Linked DNA regions of Homo sapiens. The protein of the gene in region 2 interacts with the protein of the main gene of each other region in a biochemical or structural test. Each region holds a gene or a part of one and is shown on either strand. Other genes may lie near its edges.

What was found.
Region 1: the proteins of WIPF1 (region 2) and CTTN form a complex in vitro, tested with the Homo sapiens proteins (one study listed by BioGRID).

What each region holds. Positions count from the first base shown.
Region 1 is NC_000011.10:70,399,449-70,415,378, reverse strand, and holds part of CTTN (src substrate cortactin), read right to left. Parts: intron 10,115-15,930; 5' UTR 10,018-10,114; intron 8,082-10,017; coding exon 7,995-8,081; intron 7,862-7,994; coding exon 7,788-7,861; intron 5,549-7,787; coding exon 5,419-5,548; intron 838-5,418; coding exon 727-837; intron 1-726.
Region 2 is NC_000002.12:174,575,210-174,591,139, forward strand, and holds part of WIPF1 (WAS/WASL-interacting protein family member 1), read right to left. Parts: intron 12,518-15,930; exon of another isoform or gene 12,264-12,517; intron 10,403-12,263; 5' UTR 10,365-10,402; coding exon 10,314-10,364; intron 6,231-10,313; coding exon 6,101-6,230; intron 221-6,100; exon of another isoform or gene 172-220; coding exon 1-171. UniProt on the Homo sapiens protein: Plays a role in the reorganization of the actin cytoskeleton. Contributes with NCK1 and GRB2 in the recruitment and activation of WASL.

The DNA.
Region 1 (15,930 bases), on a different chromosome or scaffold from region 2:
CACGGGCTTCACAAAAACTCGCTTCTCAAATAAGTCATGCTGAGAACATTAGTATTAGTAATGAGAATAGCAGTGGCCACCAGGGGTGCACTCCCACCAGCCAGGCACTGCGATGGGCATCTGAGCAAACACCCGTGAGATAGGTATGATCATCCTCCTTTCACAGACACATAAATTCAGAACCGTGGCTAATATGTCACAAAGCCACAATCTGCGACCAGCATCAGCTCCCTGCTCCCTCCAGGCTCCTGATCGCTCCTCTATTAAACAAAAGAGCCAACAGACCCGAGCCGAAGAGAATCAAAGAGGCTCGGGCCTAGGATGACTGCAACAACACCTGGACGCAAAGCCTGGGTCCTGGACACGAGCGCATCCTGCCCCCCCGGTATAGGCTCTGATGTCACTCTGTCACAGTAACACACATGTGAGAAACACGGGTGGAAACGGTCCCTGCTGGCACATTGGGACAGACACAGGGCCATCCAGTACTGAGGCACGTAGTGAAGAGCGACCGCAGGGACTGCTACAGCAAGCCCGCCGCATCCTGCTTCCTCTCTCTGAGAGCCCAGGCTCTCAGAGCATCCTGGGAGGCAGATGCCCCTCTCTGCAGTCCCCCAGAGCTGGAGGGCACCTGCCTGCTACTACAAGTGGCCCAACAGGGCTCAGATCTACGGGGAACGCCCCCCTTGCCCCAACCTGCCCCAGTCCCAGTGCCACATCACTCACCTGATCAACTCTGTCCATCTGGACACCAAACTTGCCTCCGAAGCCACGGACCGAGTCCACCTGCGAGCAGTGCTTGGAAAGTTTCGACTGATATTCGTGGCCGACAGCTGACTGGAACAGGGTTCAAACACAAAGCATTAGACACCAACAACACTGCGGCGCTTCACTTCCTCCCAGAGCAGGGCTGGGGGAGGCCACATCCTGGTCAGTGCAGGGAAACCTTACATTAACACACCCATCTGGGGAGCCAAGGAAGGCGACACGACTCCTGGGAGGCCCGGGTCCTTGGTGCAGGCTTTTTTTTTTTTGAGACAGAGTCTTGCTCTGTTGCCCAGGCTGGAGTGCAGTGGCGGGGTCTCGGCTCACTGCAAGCTCCGCCTCCCAGGTTCACGCCATTCTCCTGCCTCAGCCTCCCGAGTAGCTGGGACTATAGGCACCCGCCACCATGCCTGGCTAATTTTTTGTATTTTTAGTAGAGACGGGGTTTCACCGTGTTAGCCAGGATGGTCTCCATCTCCTGACCTTGTGATCCACCCGCCTCGGCCTCCCAAAGTGCTGGGATTACAGGCGTGAGACACCGCGCCCAGCCCTTGGTGCAGGCTTTCACGGCCCACCCCAGCCCTTGGGCTCCTGGAAGCTGCACACGAACCCTGGACACAGGTCGGGGCCACCAGTGGGGATTTCTGACACGACCGGGCATGAAGAAGGTACACAGAGCTGGCAGCCTGTGGCAGGATCCGTGAGACCCGCTGGTGTGGAGACTGCTGGCATCTACTGAAGTGGGACCTCTGTGAATCACATGACCAAAGAATCGGCACAAAAAATAGTCTGCCAGCAAACTATTTTGTTCTAATAGACTATAAACAAAAATAGTCTGCAAGACACAGGCTCACACTGGATTTCCGCTGAGCAGCACCCTGTTCAGGCAGGAGCCAGCTGCCGGCTCCCATGCCAGCTCATTTCAGCATCATTAATGTCGTCAGCCCCCATCAGCGCACACAGGTTTGGGGACCTTCTGTTCGCCAAAGCCAGCAGGTAAAGCCCAAGGTTCCCCTGGGCTTTCCAGACCCGGCACCCAGCTCTTCTGTAAATAACGCCTCTGGGACACAGCCACAGCCATTCACAGGTGTGCTGTCCACAGCTGCTTGTGTGATTCAGCAACTCCGTTCGGCAGTTCTATTGAGAGACCCTCTGGTCCACAAAGTGGAAAAGATCTCCTACCTCAAAGCACTGGCCCTGCTCCAGTCCTGACACCGAGGCCCCAGGGTTCTGAGGCTCCCTCCTCACAGCAGAGCCGGGTCAAGGACTCCTTCACAGACAGTGCGGGCACATGGCCCAGCAGAGGGCGTGGAGAAAGTCCACGGCACATCGGGACCCCTCTTCTCACTCCCTCTAGCATGTGGAGCCACTCATGCTAACCTGCTAACCCAAGCAGCATCCCACACCGGTGCTGACGCAGCAGGCAACTCAGAGAGTGTCCACTATTTCCCCTATTGAAAAAGCAGGTCTTGCCCTAAGCCTTGGGCCTGTGCTGCGCCCTCTTCTTCCCACGTTTGTTTTGAGGTTGGCAGCTGACTCTCTTTCCACATGAGCCATCACCTCCAAACCCTCTGTGGCAGAGACTGCCCATCCGTGTCCTCCGGGGTCTCACCCAGAAAACAGAGATGAAGGAGTGGCAGAGGCAGACGTGCCAAAGGGATTCCCCAGCATGAGTTTTCATCAGAAGGAAGTTACAGGAAAACTGATCTAAAGACATGCCCAGAATGACAACTAGGCAAAGTTTCCAGCTTTTTGATTGAAAGGGATTCATCTCCAAAATTGCCTTCGATTTCACATTGACAAAATCTGTTATTAAACAATCACGCTGGGGAGATTGTATCTTGAAGCCTGAATATGTAGACTCAGGGCTACGGGATGCAAGGAGACAAGGGATCAAGAAGGAAGCCTGCCCCGCGTGATGGATGCAGCCACCGCTGGCCGCAAGGGAAAGGTGCAGTGTGCTCAGGCCCCAGCATAAACAGAATCCTGACAGCCCGTCCAGGCTCCTCTCGCGTGTGCTTGTCCTCAATGTCTTCTTTTGTTCTGGAAGTCTCTAGCACATATTCCTCAAGTCTTAACGCAGAGATTTCAATTTTTTATTTTTTTTTTAGTTTCTGGAGTGGGCAAGTTACAAATAACTTAAGCCGTTTCCCCTTCGGTTTGGAATCTGAGTTTAATCTATTTATTTCCTGAGACAGCGTCTCTCTCTGTCGCCCAGGCTGGACTGTAATGGTGCGATCACAGGACACTGCAGTCTCCACCTCCCAGGTTCAGGTGATCCTCCCAGCTTAGCCTCCCAAGCAGCTGGGACTACAGGTGTGCACCACCATGCCCAGTTAATTATGTTTTTGTAGAGATAGGGTCTTGCTATGTTGCCCAGGCTGGTCTCAAACTCCTGGGCTGATAAGATCATCCTGCCTCGGCCTTCCAAAATGCTGGGATTACAGGTGCCAGTCCCGTACCTGGCCCTGAGTTATTTTTGACAACGTATCTGTCCCATGGTGCTGACCTGAGCTGAGCGCTAACCTGGCCCCGATGCCAGCTGGGACTGAGCAGCAGCAGCATCCCTTGCTGGACTCGCCCTGCTAGGACAGCTCTCCAACTTGCCGGCTGAGAGGTGAGAGCAAGGCTCCATAAGCCTCCTTGGTTCCATGAGAGCACTGGCCTAAGGGGGGGGCACGTGGCACTGAGCCAGGCACAAGGTGAGGATGACAAGTCCCGACCCTTGAAAAGCCCAGCCCGGAGGGGAGTCTCCCTGGGAAGGACAGCAGGATGAGGCAAGGACAGCTCATGAGGGAAGCAGAGGCTGCTGTGGAGACCGCACAGGAGAGAGGGAAGTGAGGGCTCTTCCAGGGAGCTCCTGGCACTCGGGAAGGCCTGAGCTGCAGGTTCTAGGGTGAGCGAGATTCGCGCTGAAAAAAGGTGCAGGCCGAGCAGCAGCAGAGAAGCCACAGCAGCTTCCCTACCAGGCTCTCCTGACACGTTGCCTTTCTTTTCCCCAATATGTAATTTTCCCAACCCACAGCAGGGAGCCCCATTTTTAGAATAAATGTCTCTCTGCGCTAACTCCCCACAAGCCCCCTAAGCACAGGGCTCGCCTCAGTCTGCAGTGGGAAAGGCTCCTATCTACTTGCTTCGTTCACTGCACTGAACACATGGATTCCGTCTGTCCGTGTGCACACGCTTCGCTCGCTGCACTGAACACGGATTCCGTCTGTCCGTGTGCACACGCTTCGCTCGCTGCACTGAACACATGGATTCCGTCTGTCCGTGTGCACACGCTTCGCTCGCTGCACTGAACACATGGATTCCGTCTGTCCGTGTGCACACGCTTCGCTCGCTGCACTGAACACATGGATTCCGTCTGTCCGTGTGCACACGCTTCGCTCGCTGCACTGAACACATGGATTCCGTCTGTCCGTGTGCACTTGCTTCGCTCGCTGCACTGAACTCAGGGGTCCGTCTGCCTGTTTACACTCCTAAAAGCTACCAGACTTTTTTTAGACTCCAAAGATGATGATTCTGCACACATTGCTCTTCTCGGTGTCAGGGCATCTCTGTGGTAGTGACGCAGCAACATCCATGTCTCTTTCCTGCAGAAGGTCCCTCACCCCACTCCTCCCCCAGGCTATTTATGGTCGTGGTTTGGGGTGCCCTGCCGGCCCACCACATCATCTACTCTGCGGGGGACAGAGCAAGGTGCAGCTCACTGTGACACGGCAACATCATCCCGTGCCCAGCTCAAATGTTCATCTGGCTGGTGCATGAGGTGGGAGAGGGGTATGGAATTACCGGCTGGAATCCGACACTGGCTAACACACTTCTTTCCACAGAGTAAAGGCAAGCATCTGTCAGGTCAGAACAAGCTTATGTTGCTCAGACTCAAAAGTTCACCTCCAGGATGTCTGTTTTACTGAAGAAACATGCAAACACACTGCGATCTCTTCCATCTTCTCTCCAGGAAGGAAAAGGTAGCCCTCCTGAGCTAACGTGGCTCCCTTTCTTAAGGTAGAGAGGACCTAAAGCACGGGTGCAGCCGGATGCATTTGGCCAACGTCCTCAATCAACGTCTGCGTGGCAGTCTGCATCCCATCAATGACAGCTGCTGGGAGGCTTGCCCAGACCTCTCGAATAGAGTGAGCACTGTCCCCAGCCTGGTACGCGCCGAATTTACACGAGGGAGACTGCTCTGATGGTCACTGAACGCATGAAGGATGTTAGCCAGGCCTTTGGCTGGATTCCGTGTGTGCTGTGAACCATGGGGACCTACAGATTTGACTTTGGTCTTCGGACTGGCATGACTTAGGCTACAGACTGGAACCACAGGCATTGACAGTGATGACACCTAGAGCCAGGATGCTTCTGGACTTCTGTCCTATCACAAGGCTGCCTCTGAGGGCCAATCTCCCTCTCTGGGCCTCCCCACTAACACCCGTGCTCCAGCACCTCTGAGGATTCCTAAAGAGCTTTGAAGAAAGCTAGAGTACTTCATGAGTAAGTCCAATCAACAGGGGTCTACTCCGGGCAAATCGCAACCTCAGCAGATGGACTCAAAACTGCTGATCTAAGGAAAGACTGAGGGACGACTCTGCCACCCAGTCTAGTGGTCCAAGCACACCAGGAGCCTGGCATAGGCAGCCGCGGGCCACTTACCTTATCCATTCGGTCTTGTTCCACACCAAATTTCCCTCCATAGCCATGGGAAGCTTTTGGTCCTGTTTCAAGTTCCTTCTCCTTAAGGGTCTGATGCTCTTGAAAGACATTCTCCCTCAGCTTGTGTATGCTTGATGGAAGAGATGAAAATAGGAACAGATCAATAAAACAGACGTGCAGCTTTGCCTCCTGGTATGATAAATAAGAACAGGTGACATTATCTTTGTAAATTTGTAAATCTGCTTATCTGATGTTCACCGATTCTCTCCCTGCACTGTGCCTTCCTGACTATTCTGCCGGCTGGTACACCCACTTCGGCAGTCTGCAGTATCAGACGCATGCTCTGTGGGAGACAGAACACGAATCTGAAGGCAGACACTGGGATCATCCCAAATCCCCGCTAAAGATGGCTCTACTGAAGCCTGACCTTTATTTCACACGCAGAAAATAGGAAAGCTAGTCTGTAATCATCCAGAGGTAGAGGGGGAAACACGAGGCTATGGTCCCTTCCTCGGCCACTGGCAGAAGTCCAGTGGTGCTGAACATTCAGATGATTCGTCTGTACTTGAAGTACTCCAGCTTTTTTATACATTCAAAGATGAGAGGAAAGCGTTTCAGAATTTAACATCTAAATGCCATTAAAAAATTTTAATACAGCAGATAATGAAACAGATGACAAGGTTTGCTCAAATCTGGTAGGCCAGACACAGCTGTCATTGAGAGACCCCAGAGTGATAAGAAGGCCACTTTGGCATTCGGACTTTCTGCCCAGGAGACACCAGGACGCCACCTTTGACATCTGGACGACAATCCTAGAATTGAAGATGAAATACAAACCAGGCTTGGAAACCGCCCAATACCCTTATGAGCAGGAGAAAGAAAGACACCACTCCTAAAACCTGGGAAGGCCCCAGAGCATGAAGAATGGGCTTATTCCCCATGTGTTCCTCTCTGAATCCTAACCAGCCCAAGGGTTTTGTACTGGAGAGTTGTTTTTTCTCCAAGCCACCCTCCGAGACATGTTTTGAAGCCACAGGGAACAGAAGAGATGAGAAGAGGTATGATGACTCAACGAATTCAGGAGTCTGCTTAACGCCATAGCAAATACCCAAGGCTACAGTGGACTCCCAAGTCAGCCCCATTCCAGTCTCTTGTCCTGGGCAGCCGCACGGCCACCGGAGTTCCGAAGCTGCTTCTGTGGAAGGGAGTGTGCTGAGCAAGCCAGAGAGGGACTAAAACTTGTGTATAAAAAGCCACTGGGGGCCAGGTGCGGCGGCACACACCTGTGATCCCAGCACTTTGGGAGGCTGAGGCAGGAGAATCACCTGAGCCCAGGAGTTCAAGACCAGCCTGAGCAACAAAAGCAAGACCTCATCTTTACAAGAAATAAAAGCACTTAGCTAGCCATTGTGGTGTGCGCCCATGGTTCCAGCTACTCAGGAAGCTGAGGTGAGAGGATCGCTTGAACCCAGGAAGTCAAAGCTGCAGTGAGCTATGATTGCACCACTGCACTCCAGCCTGGGTGACAGAGTGAGACCCTGTCTCAAAATAAATAAATAAATAAATAAATAAATCTTTAACAACAAAATAAAAAGCCATTGTGCAGGCTGTGCCTTCTTTTCTGGAGGAAGGACTAAATCTTTCTCAGCTGAAGGGACCGTGGTCAAGCGGGACAGTCTTCCCGGGATACTGAGGCGGTCACCGGGTCAGTGGTGCTGCCTTCACAGCCAGGGAAAGGAGGATCCACTCTGAACCCAGCGTGGCCTAAAATAAAAGTCTGAGCATATTTTAAAAGTTCCTTTTATCTACACTTTCTGACGAAAAAAAAAACTGCCCCAAGAGCTGGCATTTTAGATAGTGCCAAGTGAGAAACAATGACAGGGTTCACTCAGTGCCCAACTCTGGGCTTTCGATAAGAACACAAAGCTCACAGTACCTCACTATTAACACATAATCATTTCCAGATAATAAAAAAAGGGACAGGGCATTTAAGGTCTCAGTTATTCAGACATCTCATACTTTAGAAACCTCTCGCTTGTAAGGTAGAGCTTAGGGACAAATGTTCCCTGATAAAAGCCACAATACTGAGAAGCGGACACTCTAAAATTATAAATACGGAAATTGTTTGCAATGGGAATTTAAAAATTACTGAGCACAGAAGTATCTAAATATACACATATAAACACACACATTACACAAATACACATATATGTGTGTGTCTTATATTCATTTACTGCATGGGTATCAGGTCAAGAAGATAAATGCAGTTTCCACACGGGCTGTCCCTCCACAGATGACCATGGGCCCTGTTGCACCTGGGGCTCCATCCGCAGAGGGGCCCTCGGGAGGGTGGTGGCGACGCCTCTTACTTGATATGCTCCTGGTGCCCGGAGCCCTGCACCGTCTTGGCACCCCATCTTTGCTCCTTCTCACTCACATCATTCTGAAAAGAAAAGCGACCAGTAAATCTCACAGCCTGGATTGTGACACAGACAAACCACCACCCCATCAAAGAAAAACCCAGGAGAGCCACTTCCACTTCATGAAAGAGGAAAGCAAAGGCTGGCGGCTCCTACCACAAAATCAGGGTCGGTCTCCCAGTCATCGGCCCCCGCGTCATCCTGGGCGATGGACACAGCGTGGCCTGCTGAAGCTTTCCACATCTGAAAGAGCAGCCGGGGAGGGTTACGGAGGCCTCAGGGCGCCATCCACAGAGGCCAGCAGATGAGCCCTTTGGCCAAAACTACCGAGATTCTAGGCAACCCAGGAGGACGAGGCTGCAGGACCAGCCAATCCTTCATGATCCATAAGCCTGACTGACAACCACAGGAGTAAAAGAAATTTCACCTCGGGGTTCTAACACTGCCGTCACCTGACGTCAGAAATATACTGGAAATACTATTTGGCTTCACCTTGAGTGAGAAAATTTTCTGGAAAATAAAAAAGTCGTGTGTGCACTTATTTATTCATTAAGAACATATTCCTGTTCTGTTCAATCATATGATGATAGTTTCCAACCAAAAATAAAAGCACCATTTTGGATTATGTATTATAAATATACTAAATGTTACTAATGGTAAATCTCATGGTATGTGTATTTTATCACACATTTTTAAAAAGTGCACCCATTTTGATTTCAAGTGCTTACTGAAACCATAACAATAATTTTCCTAATTCAGACTTACAATTTAATAAATGTTTCAAGTAGTTTATTGGAGAATTGCTTTACTCTCTACTTGGAAGAAAACAGGAATATAAAATGCCACCTTTTCCTCTATCAGGCAGCTCTGCAAGTGGGCAGCCACCTTCTCCCTCAGCCCTTGAAGACTGGAAGGTTTTCTCTGTTATACAGAACAATGGCACATCTGTAAACCCTAACAAGACAATTCTTGTAACTGCAGTGGTAAAATATAAAATTTTAAGGTTTTTTTTTTTTTTTCAAACTATGTATAAAAAGAAGTGATTCCTTTTCCACAGAAATAGTAATACAATTACACATAGGCCACAGAGCAACTGAGAGATTATTTTAAATCAAACAACCATAAGCTGTGCCCAGGGGTCTGAACTGAGGACACCCAATTCACTTTTTCTCAGGTGCCATGTTGGGACTCTAGCGCCCTGAATCAGGACTGGACAAAACCCCTTCGCAGCTTGAGAATGTCCCATCTGGCTCCTCTCCCTCCAGCCTGGCTGGGTCTCAAGTCCAAATCCAATGTGACAGTGAGGGACCAATCAGGGCAGCGTGCTCTCAAATTTCTAGGTGCGACTTTGTCTCTTGGGGAAGAACCGTCTGCCAAGGGGTGTAGCAGGACTAACAGTGCCCCTGGAACCTTCTGTCAATGCCCAAAGCATGGCAAGAATTTCCAGAGTGATCTGCTTTTGCCAGGATTTTAGAAAACAGATGAACTAGAATCTCAGAACGGAAAGGCACAACCAGTCCATCTTGTCCCAACGCGCCCATTTATAAATGAAGCAACGGCTGCAGGAAAGAGAAACGGGATGCTTGGTCTCCGGCCGCCCCATGGCACCATGCTGCCCTGGCGAGGGGGCTGCCCGCCTGCAGGACTTCAGCTGCCCATGGTTCCCACCACTGAGAAGGTGGCTGCAAGAAAGGATGGGAGTCCCTGCAGGGCTGGCGAGGCCACCTTCACCCCCAAGGCAAAGGAGAAAGGCGGCAGGTGTCTTTGCCTGGTACTTTTTCAGGCTCATCGGGGAGAGATTAGCAGAGCACAGTCTCTGCTCATCTTCCCGGACACAGCTTCACCAGCGAGCGGGGTGGGCACTTGCGAGCTTCACAATCCTGTGCCTGGGGGCCCCACCCATGTTCATGGGGTGGGGAAGGGGCCAGATTTCCCCTCAGGGAGGACAGGAATGGTTCTCTTCCTCAATTCCAGAGTTTTCTGCAATTGTCTCCTCTAAGTCATATGCAACAGAAACCTGACTTTATTTTTTAAACAATGAAATTTCCTTCCAGAATATTATCATCTCTCTCCCAGTAAATCCACAGAAACAGCAACCTCCCCCGTTTCCTGTTAAAGGGATTTTTGCCCTTACCATCCACAGGAAAAGAATGTTAGGATGTTCACAATGCACAAGTACCTTTCTTTCCGCTTGGAGATAAAAGGCTGTTCACGAAATTCTGTTTAAAACACAGTAATCCAATGAGGAATTTCCAGGCATTGGGGACTGATTCCGTCTGTAAAAAGATTAAGGGTAAAAAGCTGAGAAGGATGTATGTTGAGCAGCTCCCTGGGCAAACCCTTCTGTGTGGAGATCTTTTTAGAAAACTTCAGAAATCTTCCCAAACGTAACAAGGTTTTGTAATGAAATCTGAGAGGAGGATGGGAAGACTTGCATTTTACTAATAAAAAAGTTCAACAGAGAGAAACTAAAGAAATAAGTTTTAAAAGATTTCTAACTACATGATGACTTTTTGTCTTTTTTGTTTTGTTTTTTTTGAGATGGAGTTTCACTCTTGTTGCACAGGCTGGAGTGCAATGGCACAATCGCGGCTTACCGCAAACTCCACCTCCCGGGTTCAAGTGATTCTCCTGCCTCAGCCTCCCAAGTAGCTGGGATTACAGGCAGGCGCCACCACGCCCAGCTAATTTTCTATTTTTAGTACAGACGGGTTTTCTCCATGTTGGTCAGGCTGGTCTCAAACTCCCGACCTCAGGTGATCCGCCTGCCTTGGCCTCCCAAAGTGCTGGGATTACAGGTGTGAGGCATGGCGCCCGGCCTACATGATGTTTCTTATGAATGCAAACAGAAATTATTGCCTTAATTGCTAGTATGCATTTACTGTTTGCCATAATTCTTAGAGATTTTCACTTTTTATTCATTCTAATTAATGACATTATAAAATAAAATTGTTACTGTGAGCTTTTTAAAACAATAATATAAGAAAAACACTCCTTGAGAGGATCATGATATGGCCGGGAGGAAAAACCAGTATGGTGACTGTCTATCAAGACATGAGACTGGCAGCTGGAGAGCCGAGGAGGAGGCGGGCTGCATTCCTAATGAACGTACACGGTTACCGCGCAGGGAGCAAGACTCCAGCTCCCCAGAGGGTGGCCAAGCACACGACCCCTTCCCTAGGACCACACATCAGCCTCAACTGGACACCATACTGCTAGACAACACACATGGACGAATGAAATCCCCTTGTCCCTAGGAACAAGCCGGTCACAGGCAGAGTGGTTTCTCACGCATTAGGAACTAGGGGATGGTGCCTGGCTGGCCCTCCTGGTAATTAATTAATTTCCTATCTGGTTTCTGACCCAACTGTTTGCTCCATCTCTCTCCCCAGTTCCCTTCGGCAATCCTAACTTCTACAGATTGCTTGCTACATTCTGGTTACTGCAGTTATTAGTGTAATCGGCAAGCATCTATACAACTCTGCCTAAAAATTTAGCCAGGCATGGTCGTGTATACCTGTAGTCCCAGCTACTCAGGAGGCTGAGGTGGGGGAACTGCTTGAGCCCAGGAGCTCAAGGTTGCAGTGAGCCATGATCACACCACTGCACCCCAGCCTGGGAGACAGAGAGAGACCCTGTCTCATACATAAATCAATCATAAAGTAAATAATAAAAATCTACTCATGAGCAGCTAAGGATAGGCTCAGATCCACAATTTTATACTCTCAATATTGGAAATTTAAAAAACAATCACAAAAATAACCAATAGGAAATAAGTTTGATTGTTTTGTGGATCCAAAGATAAAAAGCCTCTAGAGCCCTACCTCAAAACCATACAGAAAAATTAACTCAAAAATGAACTAAAATCCTAAAAGGGTGTAAATTTTTGTGACTTTGAATTTGGCAATAGTTTCTTAGATATGACACCAAAACACTAGAGGAAAAAAATAAATTGTACAAAATTAAAAATTTTGTGCTTCATCAAGAAGGTGACAAGACGATCCTGAGAGAAAAGTATTTTGAACTGTAGATCCAGAATATATAAAGAACTCTTGGCCAGGTGAGGTGGCTCACGCCTGTAATCCCAGCACTTTCGGAGGCCGAGGCGGGCGGATTACTAGGTCAAGAGATCGAGACCATCCTGGCCAACATGGTGAAACCCCGTCTCTACGAAAAATACAAAAATTAACAGGGCGTGGTGACGCATGCCTGTAGTCCCAGCTACTTGGGAGGCTGAAGCAGGAGAACTGCTTGAACCCGGGAGACAGAGGCTGTAGTGAGCCGAGATTGCGCCACTATACTGCAGCCTGGCGACAGAGTGAGACTCCATCTCAAAAAAAAAAAAAAAAAAAAAGGAACTCTTATAATTCAATAAAAAGGACGAATAACCCCATTTAAAAATGATTGAAGGATCTGAAGAGACATTTCTTCAGAGGAGATATACAAATGGCCAACAAGCTCAGGAAAAGTTTGTTCAATGTCATTAACCACCAAGGAAATGCAAATCAAAACTGCAATGAGAACCCACCTCATACCCACTAGGATGACTAAAATAAAACAGCCAATGACAAATCTCAGCAACAGTGTTGAAAAACTGGAAGCCTCATAGACTGCTGACAGGGATGTTAAATGGAAAAGGTCTGGCAGTTCCTCAGAAGGTTAAACTCAGGTACTGTATGACTCAGCAACTCCACTCCTAGGTCTATGCCCAAGAGAAATAAAGTATAAGCACACAAAAACTTGTGCGTGAGTGTTCAGAACAGCACTATTCATAGCAGCCAAAAAACAGAAACACTCCAAATGTCCATCAACTGATAGATACATAACATGTGGTCTACCTAACACAAAGGCATTTTATTCTGCCACAAAGAGGATCCAGCAGTGACACCTGCTACAGCGTGGAGGGACCTCAAATCCATTGCGCAAAGGAAAACCACGCACAAAAGACCACATATTATACGATTCAATTTCTAGGAAATGTCTGGAGTTCACAAATCTACAGAGACAAAAGATACATTGCTGGTTGCCCAGGGCTGGGCGGATGGTGGTGGTGAGGATAGGGAGGTCATGGCTAAAAGGTACAAGGGCTTCTTTTTGAGGTGATAAAATTATTCTGAAATTGACTGTGGTGACAGTTGTACAACTGCATGAAGATACTAAAAACCAGTGGAGAGTACACACTACACAGGCGTATTGTATGGTATGTGAATTATATCTCGATAAAGCTGTTACAATACGGTTCAAAAGAAGATAATGACTCTGTCCATCCTCAACATTAAACCTTCCTTGCAAACGTCAGTGTACAAATCAAGATTGCACAAACGTGAAGTAATCTTGCTGTCTAGACAGAGTGAAAAATTCCTCTACACAATAACTTTTTTTTTCTTTTTCAGACAGTCTTGCTCTGTTGCCTAGGTTGGAGTGCAACAGCGCGATCTCGGCTCACTGCAACCTCTGTCTCCCAGGTTCAAGTGATTTTCCTGCCTCAGCTTCCCGAGTAGCTGGGATTACAGGCATGCGCCATCACACCCAGCTAATTTTTTGTATTTTTAGTAGAGATGGGGTTTCATTATGTTGGTCCAGGCTGATCTCCAACTCCTGGCCTCAAGTGATTTGCCAGCCTCAGCCTCTCAAAGTGCTGGGATTACAGGCACGAACCACCGCGCCTAAAAGCCCCCCACCAGCCTTTTTTTTCTTTTTTTTTTCTGAGACAGGGTCTTGCACTGTGGCCCAGGCTAGAGTGCAGAGGCACAATCTCAGCTCACTGCAACCTCTGTGTCCCAGGTTCAGGTGATCCTCCCACCTCAGCCTCCCGAGTAGCTAGGACTACAGGAATGCACCACCACACCAAGCTGATTTTTCTCTCTCTTTTTTTTTTTGTTTTTTTTTGTTTGAGACGAAGTCTCACTCTGTTGCCCAGGCTGGAGTGCAATGGTGTGATCTCAGCTCACCGCAACCTCTGCCTCCTGGGTTCAAGCGATTCTCCTGCCTCACCCTCCTGAGTAGCTGGGACTACAGGCACCTGTCACTACACCCAGCTAATTTTTCTTTTTCTTTTTTCTTTTGAGATGGAGTCTCAGTCTTTTGCCCAGGCTGGAGTGCAATAGTGTGATCTCGGCTCACTGCAACCTCCACTTCGCAGGTTCAAGCGATTCTGGTGCCTCAGCCTCCTGAGTGGCTGGGACTACAGGCATATACCACCACGCCCGGCTAATTTTTTGTATTTTTTTTTTTAGTAGAGACGGTGTTTCACTGTGTTAGCCAGGATGGTGTCAATCTCCTGACCTCGTGATCTGCCCACCTCAGCCTCCCAAAGTGCTGGGATTACAGGTGTGAGCCACCATACCCGGCCAATTTTTCTATTTTTAACAGAGATGGGGTTTCCCCATGTTGCCTAGGCTGATCTCGAAACTCCTGGGCTCAAGCAATCCACCTGCCCTTAGCCTCCCAAAGTGCTGAGATTACAGGTGTGAGCCACCGAGCCTGGCAGAAGAATGTTTTAAATGACAGGACAGAACCATCCGTCCACCATCAGCTTTCCATTAGCCTCAGCATCTATGGCAGAGCAGGAGGAGAAAGGAAACAGACACTTGCGTAGCCAAAATCACCATCACAGGCACACTCCCTACACCACACTTACTCAAGGGAAACCCCGCCCCCAACATTTACTCCGTTTACTCAAAGCAGTGCGTGAGCAGATGGGGTGGGCCTGGGCCACAGTGAAAGCCAAGCCTGCTCCTGGAGCACAGTCCCCTGCTCTTGGCTGGCCCAGGCCATGGGAATACTGCAACACAAGGCAGCAACCAGCGCTCACAGCAATTCACACTCTCAGGACACCTTTTCTGAGCACCTACTGCGTGGCACAGACTGAAGATCTGAATTGCCGATTATGTGTGCTGTCATTTTAAAAGTGTTTTAAAAACAAGTCCATCAAAATGCTACAATTAAAAGTCAGCTTTAGCTGGGCCTGCAGTCCCAGCTACTTGGGAGGCTGAGGTGGGAGGATCGCTTAAGGCCAGCAGTTCAAGGTTGCAGTGTGCTAGATGGCACCTGTGAAGAGCCTCTGCACTCCAGCCTGGGTGACAGGGTCTCGCTCTGTCACCCAGGCTGGAGTACAGTGGTGCGATCGAGCTCAATGCAGCCTCCAACTCCTGGGCTTGAGATCCTCTGCCTCAGCGCCCCAAGTAGCTAGGACAACAGGTGCAAGCCAACATGCCCAGCGAATTTCTTTTTTTGTAGACACAAGGTCTCCCTGTGTTGCCCAGGCTAGTCTGGAACTCCTGGCCTCAAACGATCCTCTCACCTTGACCTCCCAAAGTGCAGGGATTACAGGTGTGAGCCACCGCACCCCTGCCCCAGGTCAAAAGAAATTTCTTTTCAGTAAGATATAGCAGAAGGTTAGCTTCTAGTTCTAGGGGACCTAATATCAAAACAACCCTGCCTCCCCAACTTTTTATTGAGTCCCACTTAAAAGACTCTTCCTTGTTCCTTGAGTATCTGGCGAATACTTCTCTAACCAGAGGAGAAACAGGACTGACTCAGTGCTCTGGAGCCAGTGACTCACCCACACGGTCAAACACGTGAATGGAGACAGGGGCAGGCGGCCAGCCCCTCCTGCGCCACGGCCTTGGGCCCGGCCGGGCTTGAGGGCTGGATCATGCCTGAAGGACCTAGTGGGTGAAGTCCCCCCGACAGAGCCTGCGCAGCCAAGTCAACACTGAGCCCAAAGGGAGCGCATGGGATTCCAGGGAGCGCTCACCGGATGCCTCCGGAGCTTCCTTCAGCAGAAAATGAATTCCTCCCCAAGGGGCCCCAAACGTCCACAGATTCCAGCGGGAGGAAGCCCTGTCCCTTCTCACCCAAGGCCTTCCAGCTTCAGGGATCAGGCATCCCTTAGACTATCCAGGTGATGGAAACGTAACAGAAAGCCCCAAAGCACCGTTCTGGTGATTTTAAACACACCCCGAAGGAGGGACGGTTCCAAATTTAGAGCCTCACGACTAGCTGCAGCCGCGCCTCGCTGCCTCCACTGACCTGATTGCAAAACCTCCGCTCAGGTGCAGGCCGGGCGGATCCCCAGCTGCTCCGCCAC
Region 2 (15,930 bases):
CCCTGTTGGCCGTGGATCTCAGCTTCGGCATTCCAGCCTGGAACAATCCTCCCAGACCTGGAGGTCCGCCCCCTCCAAAACTTCCACCGCCTCCGCCACCACCTCCTCCGCCAAATCCGCCGCCTCCACCAAAGCCACCACCACCGCCTCCAGCACCAGCTCCTTTAGGTTCTGTAGAAGAAGAGACACCCGACAGACTATGCCCCCTGGTCTGGCCCAGGTAAACCATAAAACAACAGTACAACAGGGAGCTGGCCGGCTCTCGGCCTCCAGTGGACAACTGGGATTTCTTCATTAAAATGCAGGATTTTAAGAGTTCCCTCAGCTCAGTCAGAACTGCCCGCTCCAGGCAGTCCCAAGCCCAGTGGTGGAAGAAACGAAAATAAAGGATGATTTGTCCCCACACTCCCCACTTGACTGGCTGCCACATGGGTCAGTATCTGTTTGTTCCGTATCCTAAGATTTGGCAAATAGAAGGATCTTCAGGCTGGGTGCAGTGGCTCACACATGTAATCTCAGCACTTTGGGAGGCTGAGGTGGGAGGATCGCTTGAGCCAGGGAGGTCAAGACTGCAGGGAGCCAAGACTGTGCCACTGCACTCCAGCCTGGGTGACAGTGAGACCCTGTCTCAGTAAAAAGGATCTTCAAAGAAAGAGGGTCGCAAGGGAGGAGGAGATGCCATAAAAGGCGAGAAGAAAGGAAAGAGTTAAAAAGAAAAGAAAATAAAATATCTCATAATTTCACAAATATACAAATATCCAGGCTAGGCACAGTGGCTCACACCTATAATACCAGCACTTTGGGAGGCTGAGACTGGAGGATAGCTTAGGCCCCAGAAGTTTGAGACCACCCTGGGCAACAAAGTGAGACCTCGTCTCTACGAAAATAAACAACAACAACAAAATGTAGCCAGGCATGGTGGTGCACACCTGTAGTCCCAGCTACTTAAGAGGCTGAGTGAGAGGATCACTTGAACCCACTGAGGCTGCAGTGAGCTATGATTGCACCACTGCACTCCAGCAAAAAAAAAAAAAAAAAAACACTAAGCAAATATCCACAATTGAGTTATACTTTTTCCCATCAGTATTTTTCATTTTATGTGTTTTTTCTTAAAATTAAGAACAAATTCACTAAGCAGTATTAAGCCTGCTTTTTTCATTTAACACTTTGTTAGCACTTCTTGTGTCATACTCTTTGAAAACATGAGTTTAAAGGATTCTATTGTATTGTAGAACATGAATGTATTACATTAAAATTTATTTAACTACTCATTTGATGGCCCTTTAGATTGCTATTAATTTTTTAATATCATGAAGCCCAATAGTAGGCTTTAGTAATTTAAACATTCTTTGCAATTTGAGAGGGTATAAAGATCTTGTTTTATTTTGAATTTATCTGCAAAAAATTGTGAAAGATTTTGATGGGAGGCAAACAAACAAACAAACAAAAAGATTACTGAGTATTCTGTCTAGTCTTCTGGGTTACTTTCCATTGTCTTTGAGCCACAGTATCTTATCACTCTGAAAGGCATAGAAAACTGATACTAATGCAATGGTATTTGTCCAAAGAAGTGCAAATTAGTTGTGTTTAAGCCATGCTTATACCCTCTTTAAAAAAATTATCTCTTAATTTATGTATGTATGCATGTTTGTATTTATGAGCTTAAACATTATTTAAAGTCCTCTTCCCAAAAAACTATGTTGAGTTTTTGATAAATAGTATATGAAATCTACAAATTAATCTGGGAGAACTGATACTTTTATGATATTTAGACTTTCCATTTGGAGATGTGGTATATTTTCCCATTTATTTATGTCTTCTGGATTTTTTGGCAAAGTTTTTTAGTTTTTATGATATACATTACACATGCTTTTTGTTAGGGTTACTTCAAATGTATTTTTGTTTGCTGAAATTGTGAAAGGGATGTTTTTCCTGTTATATTTTGTAATTGGTTATTTTTGGCACCAGGAAATTGTATTTAATATCTAATAAGCCACTTTGCTATGTTTTCTAAATAAAATTTACTAAAAATGTATTATCTTGCATTTTCTAGTATGCACATGGTCTTCAAATAATGACAGTTTAAAGCCTCCTCTTCTCTAAGAGTTGTATGTCTTATTTCTGTTTTATATAAGTAATTACTTTGATGGGTAAATTTCCATAACAATGTAAATTATTAACGTTTCTAAAGGCAATCATGTTCTGATATTAATGAGAATCCCTCTGATATTTCAAAGTTAATATGAATTATTGGTTTGAAATAGGTTTTTTCCCTTTCTAAATATTCAGTCTGTGGATCCTTCTATTTTAGGTTTACAAGAATTTATTATAGCATGAAATTTTATCAAATGCCTATTCAAGATCTACTGAGGCTTTTTGATGGTCTTTTTTATTTGATATGATGGATAGACTTTCTAACATTAAAAATGGGATAGGCCAGGTGCAACGGCTCACACCTGTAATCCCAACACTTTGGGAGGCCAAGGCGGGTGGATTGCTTGAGCTCAGGAGTTCAGGACCAGTCTGAGCAATATGGTGAGATTCCCATCTCTACAAAAAATGAGCCAAATGTGGTGGTGCATGCCTGTAGTCCCAGCTAGTTGGGAGGCTGAGGTGGGAGGATCCCTTGAGCTTGGGAGGTCAAGGATGCAGTGAGCTGTGTTCATACCATTACTCCAGCCTGGGTGACAAGACAAGACCCTGTCTCCAAAAAAAAAAAAGGGGGATAAACCCTGGTGTTGGTGAATTATTCTTGTAACATCTGATTGATTTAGATTTGTTTTTTGGTATTTTAGTGTTCTCTTATCTATGATGATAAGTGGTCCATAATAGGGTTTCTTAATTATAAACATTTTGGGACAGATAATTCTTTTTTGTGGGTGGCTGTCCTGTCCTGTTCTTTACAGAATGTTTACAGCATCCCTGGCCTCTACCCACTAGATGTCAGTAGCAGCCCTCCCTGTCCCCCAAAGTAGTGACTAAAAATGTCTTCAGACATTGCCACATATCCCCTGGAATGCAAAAATCACCCTCAGTTGAAAACCACTAATGTACAGCTTTCTTTTTTTATGTGCTGCCTTTGTCAAGTTTTGACATTAGGATCATGCCAATTTCATTACAATTATTAGACAGCCTTCCATCTCTTAATATATTGGGGAATGACTTATACAGCATTTGAATTAGCTGTTTCTTAAAATTTGAAAGAATTTGCTAATAAAATAATCTGGCTCCAAAACTTTTTGGAGAGAAAGTAATTTAATAAAGTTTTTATCTTTTCCCTTGCTCATTGAGGTTTCCTGAATAAATATATGCTTTTCTTAGAAAAGTACTTTCTTTAATATCTTAAAACATTTTAGCAGATAACTTTATTACACTACTTTAATTTTAGAAAATATGCTTTGAATCTCTTATTTTATCTGCTTTCTGAGTTCCACTTTTATTCATTTTTATTTCCATTTTCTGGATTAGGTTTATCATAAATTTGTGTTAGTTCTGTATCTTTTCTAGATGTGGAGCTTTCTGAGATGCTTATGGTAGCTCTGCTGTGGAAGAAATAATCTGATAATAACTGACAAGAATTACTTCACCTAACAGGATAAATCATATAAGACTAACAATTTCTAGAAGTGTATGCAAAATTGTTTCCATATAAAATTTAAAAATTTTGCTATTAACATCGCCCTTGTCATTCAAACACTATTCATTGATGAATGACACATTTTGGAATACTGCACTTCACAGGACACGTTTACATGGTACTGAAACTTTAGAGGGACTCCTGCACTATCAGACATCACCCATTACTGTTCTTTTTTTTGTTTTTTTGAGATGGAGTTTCACGCTTGTTGCCCAGGCTGGAGTACAATGGCACGATCTTGGCTCACTGCAACCTCTGCCTCCTGGGTTCAAGCGATTCTCCTGCCTCAGCCTTCCAAATAGCTGGGATTACAGGCATGCGCCACCACACCCGGCTAATTTTGTATTTTTAATAGAGATGGGGTTTCTCCATGCCTCAGGTGATCCCAGCCTCAGGTGATCGACTTGCCTCAGCCTCCCAAAGTGCTGGGATTACAGGTGTGAGCCACTGTGCCTGGCCCATTAGTGTTCTTAACCTGCAACATCTGTCCATCTTTCAGAAAGAGAAGCTAAAGCTGAGGATTAAGCTTTCAGATTATTTTTTCAGTAATTAAACTGTAGGACAGGGCTGAGTTATCACACATAACCATGGTCAACATTTTGACATACAGCCCAGGGAAGTTTCACATGCAAACAGATACAAAACTGTGGATAAACACTGCTGCTTGCAAAGAGCTTGTGACAGCAGTATAGGTGTCCAGTTGAGTGTGTGGACAAGGGCCTGCACTGGACTGTATCTTCCTTCCATCAAGGAAAGCACATTATTAAACATCATGGAAGAGAGAAGGACTAACACTATTTCCATTAAATAAGAGAAGTGGACATTGAAGAATACAATTCTTCAAGGTTTCCACTAGTGGATTCAGGAATAGGTCTAGACTGTCCAGCCTCCTTCAACAGAGCCCTAGGCTCCCTCTTGCAGTGAGGAGAACCACAGGCCTCTGTCCTAGAGGTCAGCTCCTCTGGCCTCATACCAGGGACCATGATTCAGATGGCTATTGGAGGGCTTGGAGGGCTGAGGGATTAGAGGGAATATATTATAACCACATTCGTTTTGTGGGCATTTTGACTTACAAGTCAGACTGTGTCAAGAGTTAAATACCTTAGTTCCTTTTTTTTTTTTGAGACAGAGTCTTGCTCTGTTGCCCAGGCTGGAGTGCAGTGGCACAATCTCAGCTCACCGTAACTTCCACCTCCTTGGTTCAAGTGATTCTTGTGCCTCAGCCTCCCGAGTAGCTGGGACTACAGGCATGTGCCACCACACCTGGCTAATTTTTGTATTTTTAGTAGAGATGGGGTTTTACAATGTTGTCAAGGCTGGTCTTGAACTCCTGGCCTCAAGTGATCCACCCGCCTCAGCCTCTAAAAGTGCTGGAATTACAGGTGCGAGCCACTGCGCCCGGCCATAGTTCCTTTTTGAAAGCAGTGCATTCTCACTCGCAGCACTTTGCCCGGTAACAGAACAACATTCAAAGGCCTTATCTAGGTCTTTCACTTTTCCTTTTTCCTCCCAAACCAGTAGTCCACCTAACTCTGATCCTTCTTCTTCCTTCTCTACTCATTAGGTATTTCTCCCAGAAAGTTCCCTGAAGCACTTCTAATCCTTTACTTTGCAAAGATTCTGCCTCATTATTCACTTGTTGACAAAGATCCATCTGGTGATTTTGGAAGGTCAGTCTATTTCCTGTTCCGTCCAAATGGGATCTGTAGTCTAGGATGAATCTTGGGGACATCTGGCAGGCAAAGGAAGGGTCTAGGAATGTGAGGAGACAGGCTTAAGATCTACTTATTAATTGCCAGTAGAATTCTAGTCATGGATTATTTTTTGTCCTGTTGTAAATGTTAATAAGTAGCTTTGTTCCAGAAAGTACCTCAGACTTAGGTGGGTTGATAACTGAAGTTGTGACCTCATTTTCTTTCTCTCTAAGCTCCTAATAATTGTATCTTACACTTGAATTACACTTTCCAGACAACAAAACATTTTACAGGCATTATCTCATTTGAAGCTCATGACAAACTTGTGAGGTCAATAGAACATGTATTATCATCTCCATTTTAAAATGAAGAAAACAAGGCTTGGAGATGGTACAGGATGGATGTGCCAGGTCTTGAACCCACAGCTTTTGATTCCAAGGCTAGGGCTCTTTCCATATTTTATGCTGCCTCCTCATCTGTGGTGCCAGGAGCAATGGGTTAATCTCCAGAAAGTGTTGTGAATAATGCAGAGAATTGCTGCTGTGTATGTCTTGGACAAAGAATTATTATACTGGCTTCTTGCAGCATTAGAGGGGAACCCAAGCCAAAGCTGCGGCCTACAGGGAGTGATACAGTCCCTTATTTTGCTAGCTTTGCAGCTGTTGTTAACCAAAAAATAAAATAAAATAAAAATTGAGTGGTGAGGGTAGGGTTGATTATTAGGCCATAAACTGTTCCTCTCCATGGTAGATAGCCTTTTTTTACTTACTGTCCAGTATTGGTGCACTTCTGTCATTGGTGACCGTCTTCTTTAGTTTCTTCCCTTTGCTGATATCAGAAAGGAGAGCATTTCTCCCAGCCTGCTCTGTCTTATTCAAGGTAGGCTTCTCTGTATTGGCCTGAAAGGGAGCCATACAAACAAGTAGTCATCTCTTGGGTTAAAATCATGCATTGTAACACTCGGCTGGGAAAGGTTGGGTACGGGAAGCTTGTTGTTAAGGTTCTTGGTGATAGGTTGTAAATTCTCGACAAGTTTTAGACCCCATATCTTTCTTTTTAAGATCCAGACGTTTGGAAGCAGATGCAGCAATAAATTATGTTCATTTTTAAGGGAGGAAGAGTCAGTCCTTGATTAAAGTCTCTGAAAATTCAGACCACAATCTGACTGAAACTAACAGGGCCAGGTTAGGGTGAGATGACTAGACACGAGAAAAGAATTTTAAGTCTGGGAGGATTCTGCAGGACATTACCAGACGTCATTCACTAGAGGGTACCCTGAAGAATAACTTCCTTTTCCCATCTTTTAGAACTACCCCAGTGCAAGGGAAAAACTGTCTCTAGCAAAAAGAGTCAGCTGTATGTTTTTTAAACCCACTAAAGTTCTAGAAAATAATTCCCTCTGTGTATATTGCCAAAGATGCTTTTTTTCTCTTTTTAAGTCAGATTTATTAAGGTGTAATTTACACATAGTGAAATCACCCTTTTTAGTTACAGCTCTATGAGTTTTGACAAACATATACAGTTGTGAAACCACCGTCACAATCAAGATATAGAATATTTTCATTACTTCAAAAGTTCCCTCATGTCCTGTTGGCATGAGGTGTTTCTGATGTTTAATTCTGATGAAAGCTTAGCTCATGGAAATTGTGGAATGGACAAAAATGCTGCTTTAACATGTCTGATTATTTTCTTATATTTCCAGAATTCCTAGGAAAGATCCCTACCTACTATGAAATTGGGATCTTGTTCCTTCAGGGAGTTGGGGACACTAAGAGACCAGCAAATGGACTTAGATGTAGGCACCTGCCTGTGTGCCTGTGTCTATCACACTTGGAAACTGGCTAGGTCTTGTCTGTCTCAGGGAGAGTCTGGCTGCCCCAAACCCACAGGTCCTTTCTAGGCTGGCCCCAGCCCTTCTGACAGGGATATGATTTCAGATTTGCCAGTTAGGGCCACAGGAGGAAAAGCTGGGGAAATGTATGGCTCAATACCTTACCCAGCCTTTAAAAAACAATTTTTTTTTAGAGACAGAGTCTCATTATGTTGCCTAGGCTGGAGTGCTGTGGCTATTCACAGGTGTGATCATCATGCAATACAGCCTCGAACTCTTGGGCTCAAGTGATCCTCCTGCCTCAGCCTCCTGAGTAGTTGGGATTACAGGCACGAGCTACTGCTCCTGGCCTAACTCAGCCTTTTATTAGCAGAGTTAGAGGCAAAGGAAGAACTCAGAAAAACCCTGAAGTAGGCTAACCAGAATTGCAGTGGTAAAGTTGGAAGCATCTTGAAATAACTAAATGATGAAGTATTACTTGCTTATGATAATAATAGTTAACATATACTCTGTGCCAGGCACTGTTTTCAGCACCTTATGTGTATTACTTCATTTAGCCCTTATCAACCCTGTGAGTTATTATTTCCATTTTACAGACAAGGAAACTGAGGTATAGGGAGTTTAAATCATTTGCCCCAGGCACCTAGTTAGTTGAGGAGGAGCTGGGATTCAAACCCTGGCAGTCAAGAGCCTTCCCTACAAGCTGATAGAAGGATAAATGTGGGCTCTAAAATGCCCCTCCCCATCCAGCCCCAACACACCGCTGAAGCATGCTTGTTAAAAGTTTCTCTGCTGTCCTTCCAGAAATGCTCTCTGCATACACAGTTTGCTTTTGCTAATGGGATTCTCCTCTATTGTTCTGCAACTTGTTTGTTTTCAACTTAACATACTTTGGATGTCCTGGAAAAGAGCTCTTAACATTACCTGCTGTCTTCATTTTAAGGATGAAAAAACTCTGAGGCCTAGAGAGGTTAAGTGATGTGTCACACTGGATCTCTTAACAGTTTTGGGTCAGCAACCTTCAGTAGCCTCCTGTTCTGCCTCAAAATTTATTTTGACAGCTGACCTCCCTGGGTGCTAACTTCTCTCATGTTCAGGGCCCTTAATTATGTTGTTTCACAAGGGCAGTGTTCTATGATGGCCACCAACCCACCTTTTCCCTTTCTTCATCTCTATATTCTATTTATCCAAAATCTTGCTTTGAATTAGGTAACAACGGATAGAAATGAGTTGATAAGATAAGCAAGGTTTCCCAAACTTCAAGCATTCTGGTATAAGATTCATGATTTTTGTCATCTTCTCATACCACCTGTGTTATTTATTTAATATTTTTTATTAAGTCAGTTCACTATAGCCCACACTTTTGGGGAAACATGGATAAATGAATCCTGCTATGTAAGCCAGATTGGAGGTTCTCAAACTTACCCATGTGAAGGACCAACTTTTTTTTTGTTTTTTGTTTTTTTGCGACAGAGTCTTGCTCTATCACCCAGGCTGGAGTGCAGTAGTGCAATCACAGCTCACTGCAGCCTTGACCTCCTGGGCTCAAACAATCCTCCCATCTCTGCCTCCAGAGTAGCTGGGACTATAAGCACGCACCGCCATGTCTGGCTGGCTAATTTTTAACATTTTTTTTGTAGATATGGGGGTCTCGCCATGTTGCCCAGGCTGGTCTCGAACTCCTGGGCTCAAGTTATCCTTCCAAAGTGCACGCCTGGCCAAGGACCAGTCTTTTGAAAAATATTTTCATCAGGAACTGACGCTTTTGTAAAATAACAATGAATTATTAGAAAAATGAATTAGTTTTTTAAAAAAGACACACAACATCCAATCTTAGAAACAGAAAACTACTGTCAAATTGCTAGAAATGCTTCTAAATGCTTACTTTCAACTTTTGTCCTCATCACTTTGGGGACTCTTAAAAAGCAGTTGGAAGGCCACACTCTGAGTAACAATAAGCTAATTAATAGGCAGTTCTTCTCACTAGGTTTCAACCTCAGATGAGTTATATAAATGTGTCTCATGGAAACCTGGGGCAAGAAACTTTCTCTCCAAGCCTCAGTTTCCCCATGTGAAAATGGTGAAAATGAAGGAACCATCAGTGTGAGGCTCCTCCTCAGTGAAGGCTTCACAAGCTGGAGAGGGCTTTGTAACAGAGCGTATCTTGGGGCCTTTCCATATGACCAAGTGGAGAGTTGCCAAATTCCTGAAGAGGGCACACTAACTTCCCCAAAGAGGTCTATCAAAGGAGCAGGATGAGCCGGGCACAGTGGCTCACGCCTGTAATCCCAGCACTTTGGGAGGCCGAGGTGGGTGGATCAACTGAGGTTAGGAGTTCAAGACAAGCCTGGCCAACATGGTGAAACCCCGTCCATACTAAAAATACAAAAATTAGCTGGGCATGGTGGTGCTTGCCTTTAGTCCCAGCTACTTGGGAGGCTGAGGCAGGAGAATCACTTGAACGGGAGGTGGAAGTTGCGGTGAGCTGAGATCGTGCCATTGCACTCCAGCCTGGGTGACAGAGCGAGACTCAAAAAAAAAAAAAAGACCAGGATGAATCCACTGAAGAAATTCTTTCAGGAAATAAACATCTAAATGCCTAAATGCAAGTATAGATTTAAAGGAGGATGTGAATGTGTATGGCAGAGGTGGTGGAGGGAGATATTTGTCAAAAACAGATTGGGAAGAAGAGGGGAAAAGGCAGAAAAAAAGAAAGGAGTGAGACCGGAAGACACTTTAATGGAATGCACTGCAGGCAGAGACCTGGGTTTCTAGACCGTCCAGCCCAGAAGTTAAAGGCCAGACATTGAGTTCATCTGAATGAAAACAGTGCACACTGGTCTCAGAACTGATCCTGCAAACCCTATCTTGGGCCAGCACATGTCCCTGCGCAGATGCGGCAGAAAACACCTCATCAGCCACATTCCACCCTTGTACTATCCATCACACGAGACCTTAAACAAACAAAACCCTTCGTGTTGTTTGTATTTGCTGGGTTTCAGGATTTGGCTTACCCTGGGCACTGGGAAAGCCTGTTGTATCACATGTGAGCCAGAATGCAAACACATTTAATACAAACACATGCACGCCAGGTTTTGGCTTCATTTGGCTTGCTTTATGCATAGAAAGTGTTTGGGGAGGAGACACTCACCAGTGCAAACGTCGGGGGCGGCGGGGGTGCTGGAGGGGGAGGGACAGGCATCTTGGGCAGTTATGCGTTCAACAGTCTTGCTGATAAATCTGGAAAAACAAGAATGCGATCATGTATTAGATGTAATCTTAGTAATACTGTCCTAATCTGTCTTCACTTTCCCACCAAAGTGACAGCTCCACCTAGCTCAACTCTTAGAAGAGATGGGCTTACCTTTACACCTCACTGCTAAAACATTACTGTTCTGGAAGGATCCCGGCAGAGGGGCTTCTGACCCGAGGTGCTTGGAGAGAATGGAGGCCACATCCAGTGCCTTACTCGGCTCCATTCCCCCACCCACTACAGTAGGCCATGACCGACCCAGGTGGGCCCAGTTAAGCAGGAAGGTCTCACACAACTGCTAGGATGTATCCTGGCCAAGTTTCACTGAAAACAAATTCACTTCAAGTGGCTTCTCCTCTTCGCTAATTTCCATGACAATCCTTTCATGCTCTCCCACCCCCTCTGGCTTTCTCCTCCCATTCTTCCTGACATTCGCCAAGTCTGTGTGTGCACTGCAGGAATATGAAAATGAATCTACTTCTAGTCCCGCCCTCAAAGTTCCTAGTCCTCCAGGGAGAGGGCATGGAGAATGTCAGGTGGAAAGCAGGGAGCAGCAGCTGAGGCGGGGTGGACGTGTGGGGGGTCAACCTTATGTTTGGAGCACTCAAAGACCAGCCATCCCTATCTCTGTGCTCCTTAGCATTTCCTCAGAGGATCTAAGCGAAAACAGAGCGGGCATGAGAAGTCAGACCTAGGACTCCCAGGCTGTTTACCAGAAATGCATTTCATTTAGAAGAGCCTGTCTTAGCTTTGTTTGGGTAAAAAATTATATATAAATAAAATAAAAAAGAAGAGCCTTTCTGCAGAGTGTGCTTGCTCTGAAAACAAAGGGAAGACCAGATTCCGTAGCTGGGTAGGAAAGTTTAGGGACCCCAGGTGGGTGAGGGGGCAGGGCGGAGAGGGCAGCCTGGCAAACACCAGGGCCAGGAGAGACGATGGCCAGGAAGTGCCTGGTGAGTTACACCAGCCAGGAGCCCTCTCCCCATTTCCTCTAATCCTTGCAGTCCTGTTCCTTCGCCTCACTAGAACCCCTGCTCCCTCTGCCCTGTCTAGGACAACGCCTCACCCACTGTTCTCATCCCTAAGCAATGCCAGCTTCTCCCACCCCATCCTTGCTACACAAACTGTGGTCCTGGATAGGCAGCGTGGGCACCACCCAGAAGCTGTTAGAAATGTCAACTCCCAGTCCCTTTTGCCCCCAGCTGAATTCGTTTCAGCATTTTAACAAGATCCCTGGGTGATTCATACGCACTAAAGCCCTATGTAGAGATCGAGCCTTAAGCCAGCGGGCAGTCTGGGTCACTGGCCACCTGAATAACATTATTTCTACAGGACATGTGTCCCAAATTTTAAACTGCAGAATTATATTTCTTTAAAAAATTTTTTTAAATTTTTTTTTGGAGATGAGGTCTTGCTCTGTCACACAGGCTGGAATGCAGTGGCATAATCATAGCTTACTGTTGCCTCAAATTCCTGGGCCTAAGCAATCCTCCTGCCTCACTCCTGAGTAGCTTAGCTAGGACTGCAGGCATATGCCACCACGCCTGGCTAATTTATTTTTATCTTTTATTTTTGTTGTGATGGGTCTTGCTATGTTGCCCAGGCTAGTTTTGAACTCCTGGCCTCATGCGATCCTCCTGCCTTAGCCTCCCATAGTGCTGGGATTACAGGTGTGAGCCACTGTGTCAGGCTTTTTAAACTCCCAATAGTCCCTTAATTGCAAAAAACAATTTCTTAGAATTTAAAATATTCATTTAGTTCAACCACTACAAGTTAATGTGGAAAACTGAAACCTAAACAAATACTTTCTATTGAGATAATGCTAAATGGCTTGCTTTCTGTGAACAGAAATGGACTGGAGAAGCTAAAAAAGACACTGCTGGACTTGTCACAGCCGCCGGGAAACAAGAATTAAGACAGTTCGGAAGAGTCCCATTCAAAGTGGGCGGTCTAGAAAATGAAAATTTTAAATTCCACAGCAGCAACAGCAGCTCTCATGTATGGAGAATCTGCTGGATCCAGGGCTCTATCCTTGCGTGGTCTCTGACTCCTAAGACAGCGGAAGCCAGCATCGCTGTGCTCATTTGATAGACTCAGAGAAATTAAATCACTCCCTAAAACACCCTGAAGCAATTCATTCAGTCATGTCCTTTTGCTTCCTGCTCTTCTGCTGGATAACACTGCCTCACTCACTCACTGCCCTTTTAATGGTCTGATAAACACTTTCAGGCAGGCGAATTAGTGCCACAGCTCACCTGTTAACTAGGCTGGAATCTGTTTTCAGTAAGAGACTGTCTCAGGCAAGGATTCTTTTAAAGTCTGTTTCTTAAATTGCTCTTTCTGGCATGACATCAATTAGTCACCCATAGGGCCACATGGGCATTGTGAGCAGGACTGGGTGCCTGTGTTAGGGGGTCCTCCATCAAGGGGCATCTCCAGCGGCACATTCAGAGGCCTTGGAGTCAGACGTCTCCTAGGACCAGCAGGAACGAAAGGGATCTGATTCAGGCCTGACTACTGCGAAAGATGCTGGAGCCAAATCAATGGTATGATCAGAGTTGGGAAAGGCTTACCAAGGAAGGGGGATAGCCTGGTCTGCCCGGTGGGCCCAAGAGATGGGCTGTGGGAACAGTGCATCCACGTGCTTGGTTGATGAAAAATCCCTCAAGACTATTTTGTCTGACTCCACGTTCACCGATTAACTTTCTGTCATTCTGTGATCCTAATATCTAGGAAAGGGTGGATATTCTGGTCAACTAACAGGAACCTCTTATGGGTATGGTTGTCATGAGTTCGGCTCTCGTAACAGAGATCAAATTGAACTTCTGTCCTGCACAGCTTAGGGGGCAGACTGTGGAATGGGGACCCTTTCAGGGGCTGCCACCCTGAAAGGCCTCCTTAATTATTTTACAATTCTCTGTTGCTGCTGTTTTAGTACTGTCTGTGCACTAACTGACTTGTATATTAACTTCTGGATGACAGCTCCAGGGAGGGCGTGTTAACTTCATGGTCCAGAGGGCTAGTGTGGGAGAAATGGCAACAGTCATGGCTGGGGCCAGAGCCAAGGCCAGATTGCAGAAATTAGCAGGCAAAAACAAGGTTCAGGGAGCAAGATGCTATTAAAGGGTCTGAGGTATTGAAAGAAGTGCTGCCTTTCCTTCCTGGCCACTTCAGATGGACAGTGGGGAGAGGGTCTACGGGTGAGGGCTCTCACTTTTTAGAGGGTGATGCAGAACTAAGTGCTCTTTCCTCTCTTCCTCTGCGAACTTGTTTGCATGGCTTGCTTTCCCTGGCCCCATCTCTCACTCCCCTCCAGATTAACTGTCCCTTTCCAATCTCAATGGTAACACAGATGAGGGAGGCTGCCATGTCCTCTCTCCTCCCTTCTAGCTGAACAACTGCTGGGCACGGTCTGGACTTCTCCAGGCTGGGGCCTCAAGGGAAGTGTGTGAGAAACCCCAGACTCCAATACTGCCACCTCACTCAGCCCCTGGATCAAAGACCAAGCTCGTGTGCCCCAACACTGGGCCCACCGGCCACACCAGGCCCACTTCTTGGCTGTCTTTCCACCAGCCTATGGACTCCATGGGGTCTTGCCAATACCTGGCACAAAGTAGGGTTCTTACTAAATATATATGCAGTGAAAGAACTGTGTATCACACAAACAAGCCGAGTGCTTGCCACTTGAAGGGCTCCCAGCATCACCCCACCGCACTGTGAGATCTGGGCAAAAGAATCAGCCCTATTTCAGAGGGGCTTGCTAGTGTTGCAGACTGGAACTTACTTTCCTGGCAGCCTCCAACTTCCCCAGAGAAGTAGAGCCCCAAGGCCCTGGGAGAGGAGGGCTTCCCTCCTCTCATGGACTTGACAGCCCACATCAGAGCCACAGCCAGATCTTACTGAAGGCCTTGGCCCTAGAGCACGGATCCTAACAGACCAGGCATTCCTGCCTGGATCCTCACACCCAGAGTCTGTGGATAGAATTCAAGGGTTCATGAACTTGTATGAAAAAAAAGTACATATTATTTCTACTAAGCACTAACTGAAATGTAGCATTTCCTTTGATTATGAATGCAGGCCACAAACCATAATATCTGATATTCTTTCACCCATAGTTTTCACGTGATATTTCACATCATATTACAACTACACACCAACAATTTTCAACATGCTGGCAACGTTTAGATCCATTGCTAGATCTTGTTGTTTAAACCATTAATAAAGAAGTACATATTTTAATAAATTAGTTTCCTTTGTAATTCTCTGTATTTTATTTTATGCATTTAAACGTAGACACAAAAGGGTCCCTTTGGGACTGGGAGTGGTGACTTATGCCTATAATCCCAACACTTTGGGTGGTCAAGGTGGGAGGACTGCTTGAGCCCAGGAGTTTAAGACTAGCTTGGGCTACAAAGTGAGCCCTTTATCTCTAAAAATAAAATAAAATAAAATAAAAACAAATTAAAATTAAATTTTTTAAAAAAAGGAGTCCTTTGGGCTTTACCAGTGGGTTTATAGAATGAAAAAGGGAGAACATGAGACCTTGGTCAGGCAAATTTGGTTCTGAATCCTTGCTCTGCCACCTGGCAGATTCAGATGGGAATTTGTTTTTCCCATCTGTTAAATGGGAAGTTGCTGAGCAGATTAAATGAAATGGTGTGTGCAAGGCTTTCAGCATGGCCTGGGGGAGCAAAGCTGTCAGTGGACAGGGCTTAGCTCTGTCCTTCAGAGGGTGAGGATGGGTCCTGCTGGTACAAGCTGCTGAGTGCCTGGCAGAGGAGGGATGGACCTGGAGGCTAGTCTGAGGGGCCACAGCTTTGCTCAGTGGCTGTGGGTGGATCTGCCTGGGTGGGAATGAGGCTGACTGATGACTGGGCCTCCCAGCATTTGGTTCTTCCCTTGGAGATGGGAGCATGGCAGGAAAGGCAGCTGATTCGGGTGCAGGAGAGACGCAAGAAGGGAAGGGACTCAGCAGCAGTTTCCCAGTGTGGTCAGTCATCTCCTGCATCAGAATCTGCTGTGCCTGTGTCCGGCTTCCCAGACTAGTTGGGCTCTCAGTAGTGTCGGATCACATGCCTACCCACTTGCTGGGCCTTGCCCTCCTACCCCACCCCAACCCAAGCAATGAACTTTTAAGAAGTCACACTTTTCAGAATTAATTTCTTTTTAAGAATAATTTCAATGTTAAGTAACTTTCATGATAGAAAAGCCAGACTTTCTAAAATCTTTACTTGGTGTGTTGACTTCTACAAACACAAAGAAAACTCAAGGGACAGAAAAGGCTTTTGTTTTCACATACAGTATTACGGTCTGAACTATGTCCCCTGCAAAAGTGATATGCTGAATTCCTGACCCTCAGGACCTCAGAAGGCAACTGTATTTGGAGATAGGGTCTTTAAAGAGGTGATTAAGCTAAAATGAGGCCATTGGGTGAGATCTTAATCCAATTTGACTGGTGTCCTCATACAAAGAGGAAGAGACATCAGGCATGTGCTCACACAGAGGAAAGTCTTCA